Homo sapiens: one gene and its partner. The protein of the gene in region 1 interacts with the protein of each later gene in a pairwise test. Each region holds a gene or a part of one and is shown in the gene's direction. Other genes may lie near its edges.

Region 1 (3,820 bases):
CAAATCTGTTGAGTTCATTCCACTACTAAGAAGGTTGTGTTTTTTGTGTTTTTTTTTTGTTGTTTGTTTTTTTAATATATATTACGCTCTGAACCAAGTAGCATACTTCTGTGGCCTAATTTTTTTTTTTTTTTTTTTTTTTTTTTTTTGAGACGGAGTCTCGCTCTGTTGCCCAGGCTGGAGTGCAGTGGCGCGATCTCAGCTCACTGCAAGCTCCGCCTCCTGGGTTCACGCCATTCTCTTGCCTCAGCCTCCTGAGTAGCTGGGACTACAGGCGTCTGCCACCACGCCCGGCTAATTTTTTGTATTTTTAGTAGAGACGGGGTTTCACCATGTTAGCCAGGATGGTCTCAATCTCCTGACCTCGTGATCCGCTGGCCTCGGCCTCCCAAAGTGCTGGGATTCAGAAAAACTCTTTTTTTTTTTTGGAGACAAGAGTTTCGCTTTTGTTGCCCAGGCTGGAGTACAATGGTGTGATCTCGGCTCACCGCAACCTCCGCCTCCCGGGTTCAAGTGATTCTCCTGTCTCAGCCTCCCGAGTAGCTGGGATTACAGGTGCGTGCCACCACGCCCGGCTAATTTTTGTATTTTTAGTAGAGATGGGGTTTCATCATATTGGTCAGGCTGGTCTCGAACTCCTGACCTCAAGTGATCTGCCTGCCTCGGCCTCCCAAAGTGCTGGGATTACAGGCGTGAGCCACTGCACCTGGCCAGAAAAACTCATTTCTACATTTCCCATAGGTTGTTTAAATTGTTATTATTAAAGGAAAGCTCATCTCAAAGCTTCCTCAACAACAAAGCCTTTTATCTTCCACCCCACCTCCCACGCATTCACTGCCCAAATATACCAAGTTTCTCTTTTCTTTTTTCTTTTTTTTTTTTTTTTTGAGATGGAGTTTTGGTCTTGTTGCCCAAGCTGGAGTGCAATGGCACAATCTCGGTTCACCACAACCTCCACCTCCCAGGTTCAAGTGATTCTCCTGCCTCAGCCTCTCGAGTAGCTAGGATTACAGGCATGCACCACCACGCCTGGCTAATTTTGTATTTTTAGTAGAGATGGGTTTTCTCCATGTTAGTCAGGCTGGTCTCGAACTCCTGACCTCAGGTGATCTGCCCGCCTTGGCTTCCCAAAGTGCTGAGGTTACAGGCGTGAGCCACCACGCCCGGCTCTCTTCTTTTTGTTTTTTGTTTTTGTTTTGAGATGGAGTCTCGCTCTGCCGCCCAGGCTGGAGTGCAGTGGCGTGATCTCAGCTCACTGTAACCTCTGCCTCCCGGGTTCAAGGGATTCTCCTGCCTCAGCCTCCTGAGTAGCTGCGATTACAGGTGCCACCACGCCCAGTTAATTTTTGTATTTTTAGTAGAGATGGGGTTTCATCATACTGGCCAGGCTGGTCTTAAACTCTTGACCTTGTGCTCTGCCTGCCTCAGCCTCCCAAAGTGCTGGGATTACAGATGTGAGCCACCATGCCTGGCCTCTCTCTTCTTTTATCTGTAGTAACTTTTTACATGCCTTATGGTATCTAACCATAAGGCAGTGTGTTAGAATATAATATTTTGTATTAATTTTATTTTAAAAATATTTTATATTGATAATGGTTACATATATATTCATATAGTTTCTATGTGTCTAAATTTGGGTTGTATATGTAAGATTTTTGCACTTTATATAGTTATACCTCCAGTTTTTTAAAAATATAAATCTTAAGTCGTGTGTGGTAGCACACCCTAGAGTCCCAGCTATGGGACTACTGAGGTGTGAGGATCACTTGAGGCCAGGAGTTAGTGGCTGCAGTGCACCATGGTTGTCTTATGCATAATCACTGCACTACAGCCTAGGTAACATAGTGAGACTCCCATCTCTAAAGACAGAAAGAAGTTAAATAAATAAATAAATCTTACCTTCCATGTTAGGCTAAGTCCAAGAGATAAGTCACTGTATTTTACCTAACTTTATCTTTTCTATTGAATTGTGTTCTGTATTGCACATGGTGGGCAATCCATATGTGTATGAATTAACCTAAATGTACTTGTGGATTAAGTTGTGTTAAGTTTATGAAGCAAAATATAATAGCCATAGTGGGAAGTCATTCTAACCATACCTTGAGGATGTTAACATTTGCTGCGAGGCATATTTTTGGTTTATATAAGTCATGGTTATTGACATAGCATCTATCTGAGTAGATATTAAGCAAGGTTAGATATTTTTTCTTCCTTTTTATGTACTCTAGGTACACAGATATATCTGAAAACAAAGGGATATATATTTGGCTGCTTCTAAGACAATTGAGTCTTGATTTATTATGTTTGTCTTTTTTTTTTTAAGATGGAGTCTCATTGTGTTGCCCAGGCCGGAGCACTATCTTGGCTCACTGCAACCTCCGCCTCCCGGGTTCAAGCGATTCTCCTGCCTCAGCCTCCTGAGTAGCTGGGATTACAGGCGCGTGCCACCACGCCCGGCTAATTTTTGTCTTTTGTTTTTGTTTTTTTGAGACGGAGTCTCCCTCTGTTGCCCAGGATGGAGTGCATTGGCGCGATCTTGGCTCCCTGCAACCCCCACCTCCCAGGTTCAAGCGATTCTCCTGCCCCAGCCTCCTGAGTAGCTGGGATTACAGGGGAGTGCTACCACGCCCGGCTAATTTTTGTATTTTTAGTAGAGACGGGGTTTCACCATGTTGTTCAGGCTGGTCTCGAACTCCTGACCTTGTGATCTGCCCACCTTGGTCTCCCAAAGTGCTGGGATTACAGGCGTGAGCCACCGCGCCCAGCCAATTTTTGTATTTTTGGTAGAGATGGGGTTTCGCCATGCTGGTCTCAAACTCCTGACCTCAGGTGGTCCACCCGCCTTGGCCTCCCAAGTGCTAGGATTACAGGCGTGAGACACCGCGCCCAGCCCCAGTCAATTTTTTATCAGGATTGTACTATAGGAATAGTAAGTCTTCTCACTAGAAAATATACCTTGGAGATTGGTCGAAATAAATATTATATTTTAATGTTCCTAAGTAAACATAGGGATCGTTTGTTTCATCAGGATTGTTCTATAGGAATAGTAAGTCTTCTCACTAGAAAATATACCTTGGAGATTGGTCAAAATAAATACTTTTAAAATGCTTAATTATTATTTATCTTTGATGTTGAACATAAAAAGCAGAATTGTTTTCTCCTTTGATGAAGAAACAGTTTCTAGGAATAAAGGAAACTTTAGAACCGATGTCCCTTTTTGTACATCACTTTTTGAGTATTTACTGAATGTAATGTTTGTGTCTTGTAGAATGGAGATGTATGCATTTCGATTCTTCATCCGCCTGTAGATGACCCACAGAGTGGAGAACTGCCTTCTGAAAGGTGGAATCCTACTCAGAATGTGAGGTAAGGAGGAATCTGGTTTTGGAGTTATTCTTAATCTCCTTATTGTCTTTGCTCCTAGTAAAATAAAATTATGTATTGTCTTTTAACATGTAAAAAATCATCTTTCTTATATTCAGTTTCTTTGTCTTTAGCTAGAGCTTTAAGAAATATGTATGCGTCATTTTGAAGAGCTGTATTTACTAAACAATAATGTATATGATTCTCATTTCCCTATGTTCACTTAGGAATAGATTTTCAAGCCTGAATCCCTACTCTTAACTTATCCTAGTTCTACTCTGGTTCTTTATTACCACCTAACATTAGTGTCATTCATTGGTTGCAGTTAATAAACAATGTTAATTCATTATAAGTAACTGAAGTCCATACGCTTTCACATTTCCTTTGTTTTTACCTGTCGTTGTTTTGCTCCAAAATATTTCATACATATAAATATATATCTATATATGTACGTGTA
Region 2 (3,805 bases), on another chromosome or scaffold:
CTGACAAATGATGAATTGTTCTTTACACTGTAAGCTTATTCATCACATTTCCAACAGCTGAGGATGCCTTGGTGTCTAGGAAGAGAGACCCACACAACTTCTCCCTCATCCCACAGCAGCCAGTGTTTTGGGGGCACTACAAGTGAGCTGAATCTCATCTTCCATTCTAGTAAGTAAAGAGATAGAACCTAAATTAGAAAAAGAAATTGCATGTAACACTTTATGACATGCACTGGCTAAATAAGAACTAGAATCCATTTACATTATATAAATGAATTATTTCACAACTTGAAGATAAACTCAAGAAAAAAAAGGGTTAAAAATATTTGAAGGCGGGGTGCAGTGGCTCACGCCTGTAATACCAACATTTTAGGAGGCCAAGGTGGGTGGATCACCTGAGGTCAGGAGTTCCACACCAGCCTGGCCAACATGGTGAAACCCTGTCGCTACTAAAAACACAGAAGTTAGCTGGGTGTGGTGGCACACACCTGTAATCCCAGCTACTCAGGAGGCTGAGGCAGGAGAATTGCTTGAACCCGGGAGGCAGAGGTTGCAGTGAGCCGGGATCATGTAACTGCACTCCAGCCTGGGCGACAGAGCGAGACTCTTTCTCAAAAAAAAAAAAAAAAAAAAAAAATTAAAAATGATTATCTTAGGTACCAGGAATTGGCGTGTGGAGGGGCCAGGCAGGGGACAGCCAATTTCCATTACAATAAGTGCTTGATAATATTTTTTTAAATGTTTACATGTGTTACTTTTATTTCAAAATGAAAGCCAGCTACACACCCACAGGTGCAGTGTGATATGACAGTCTTTTAATAAAGGCTATATTAAAAGAATAGACACAAAAGTGTTGACAGTGGTTATCTTTGAGGGGAGGGATTATAGGCGTCTTACTTTTTGCTTGTATCTGTTTTTGTTTTCTGCACTGCGCGTGTGTTGCTTTTAAATACGCATTTCAAGCGCCTGTGTTTTAGGATGAGCACCACCGGTTCGCTATGGCCTGGAATGATTCCACCCGTGGCCTTTTAGGAATCTGTTGAAAAATGAGTGTGCACTGAGGGAGCTGAGGAGCAAGTGAAGATGACTCTCTCAAGGAATCCATCTGAGGGCCAGGAGGCAGGTCAAGGGAGGGAAGGGCGGGAGAAGCCTTTTTTTTTGGTTTTTTTTTTTTTAATTTGAGACAGGGTCTCGCTCTGTCACCCAGGCTAGAGTACAGTGGCGTGATCTCGGCTCACTACAACCTCTGCCTCCTGGGTTCAAGCGATTCTTCTGCCTCAGCCTCCCTAGTAGCTGGGACTTCAGGCGCACGCCACCACACCCAGGTAATTTTTGTATTTTTAGTAAGGATGGAGTTTCGCTATGTTGGCCAGGCTGGTCTTAAACTGCTGACCTCGGGTGATTCTCCCACCTCGGCCTCCCAGTGTCCCGGGATTACAAGAGTGAGTCACCGCGCCTGGCCTAGCAGAAGCTTTTCTTTCACTTGCTTTTGCTTTTTAGAACTGGGAGGGCCCACGCCCCACGTGCAGCGACGCAAGGGCGACGCAAGGGTGACGCACGCCACGGCCGTTGGGAGCCTGAGACTCAAACATGGCAGCGCCACCTTCTCCAGGAAGGACGGCCGACCAAGCAGACCAGGTATGCACCTTCCTCTTCAAAAAGCCTGGACGGAAAGGGGCTGCAGGCCTCAGAAAGCGCCCGGCCTGCGACCCCGAGCACGGAGAGAGCAGCAGCAGCGGGGACGAGGGCGACACAGTGGCTCAGCCCCCGCGGGTGGCACCGAGGCCCCGGGGCCTCCACAGCTGGCAGAAGGCGGCTCACGGCGACAGGAGGGGCGAGGAGGCGGCGCCTGAGAGCCTCGACGTGGTGTACAGGTCCACCCGCTCGGCGAAGCCTGTGGGGCCAGAGGACATGGGGGCCACCGCTGACTTCGAGCAGGACACCGAGAAGGAGCACCATACGCCGACCATCCTCAAGTGCAGCCAGCGGGTCCAGGAGGCACTGCGGGGTCGGGAGCACGACCACATCTACCGGGGAATCCACAGCTACCTGAGGTACCTGAAGCCCAAGGACACGTCCATGGGCAACTCCTCCTCGGGGATGGCGAGGAAGGGCCCCATACGTGCGCCAGGGCATCTGCGCGCCACTGTGCGCTGGGATTACCAGCCTGACATCTGCAAGGACTACAAGGAGACTGGCTTCTGTGGCTTCGGGGACAGCTGCAAATTCCTCCACGACCGTTCCGATTACAAGCTCGGGTGGGAGATTGAACGGGAGCTTGAAGAGGGTCGCTACTGTATCTGCGAGGACGAAAACCATGAAGTGGGAAGCGAGGAAGAGGAAATACCATTCAGGTGTTTCATATGTCGCCAGGCCTTCCAAAACCCAGTCGTCACCAAGTGCAGGCATTATTTCTGCGAGAGCTGCGCGCTGGAGCACTTCCGGGCCACCCCGCGCTGCTACATCTGTGACCAGCCAACCGGCGGCATCTTTAACCCCGCCAAAGAACTGATGGCGAAACTGCAAAAGCTTCAGGCTGCAGAAGGTGGGGGCAAGTCCCATTTCACAGAAGACCCCCATGAGTGTCCAATTCCCATGGCTTAGGTTTCCCATAATTCTCACATTTAAATAAATTTTTTTGTTCTTTTAGGAAAAAAGAGATAAGAAAGACTCAAGTCTGTATGTACACTGGGGAGAAGCAGCCTGTTGAGTAAGATGAGAGAGATGACAGTCTTCCTGCAATCCCATGCCTGAGTATGTAACCAAAAGAATTGAAATCCGGATCTCAAAGAGGTATGTGCACTCCCATGTTCACTGCAGAATTATTTGCAAAAGCCAAGAGGTGTAAACAACCCAAGTGTCCATGGATGGATGAATGGACAAACAAAATGCGATACACACACACAATGGAATGCTATTAAGCCTTAACGGGAAGGAAATCCTTTTAAAGATTTAAACTGATCCTTTTAAGGATCACATGCTACAACTAGAATGAACCTTGAAGACGACACTGCTAAGTGAAATAAACTAGTCACAAAATGACCAATACGCTGTATGATTTTTCACTAATATAAGGTATCTAGAGTTGTCAAAATTACATAAAAAGTCGAATGGTGGTTGTCAGGGGTTAGGAAGAGCGGGAGTGGGGAGCTGTTGTTTAATGGGTACAGAGCTTGAGTTTTGCTAAATGAAAAAGTTATAAAGCTCTGTTACACATCAATATATATATACCTAATATGAGTGAACACTTAAAAATGGTTAAGGGTACATTTTATGTTTTGTACTATAATTAATTTTTTTTTTCAAAAAAGCTAAAAAGAGATATCAGAAAAGGAAGAAATGATGGAACCAAGACCGGGAGGGAGTGGAGAGGATGGGGTTCAAGAGTTACCAAAACAGCAAATAAAGGATATCAGTTAAGAACCAAGGAGGGGAGGAGTTGACAGAAGAATATCCACGCTGAAGTTTGGATTTGATTTTGTTTGGCTGATGTTAACATCCTCTCCCTTAAAATGGCAATGTATTCCTCTCCCAAGACAAACACCAACAGATCCACGCTGAGTTCCTCACAGCTGATGAGTTCCTTACAAGGAACTGACACAGATTATGTAAATTTTCATAAGAGCCTATCTCATATATCAACTTTGGCTGTGAATTCCTTGAAGACTGAAACCATGTCTCACATACTTCCTGTTTTTTAATGGCCAACAGGTAGCTCAATAAAAAGTCAGTTAGTGAAAAGTCAGTCAAACCAAGCTACCTAGCAGTCGGCTATGCAAGCAACTGCGGCAGAGCGAACTTCGGC

What was found.
Region 2: the proteins of UBE2R2 (region 1) and RNF113B interact in a two-hybrid assay, tested with the Homo sapiens proteins (one large-scale study listed by BioGRID and IntAct).

The regions. Positions count from the first base shown.
Region 1 is NC_000009.12:33,896,906-33,900,725, forward strand, and holds part of UBE2R2 (ubiquitin-conjugating enzyme E2 R2), read left to right. Parts: intron 1-3,268; coding exon 3,269-3,366; intron 3,367-3,820. UniProt on the Homo sapiens protein: E2 ubiquitin-conjugating enzyme that accepts ubiquitin from an E1 ubiquitin-activating protein, and catalyzes its covalent attachment to other proteins by an E3 ubiquitin-protein ligase complex.
Region 2 is NC_000013.11:98,175,022-98,178,826, reverse strand, and holds RNF113B (RING finger protein 113B), read left to right. Parts: upstream 1-1,557; 5' UTR 1,558-1,590; coding exon 1,591-2,545; intron 2,546-2,650; coding exon 2,651-2,664; 3' UTR 2,665-3,042; downstream 3,043-3,805.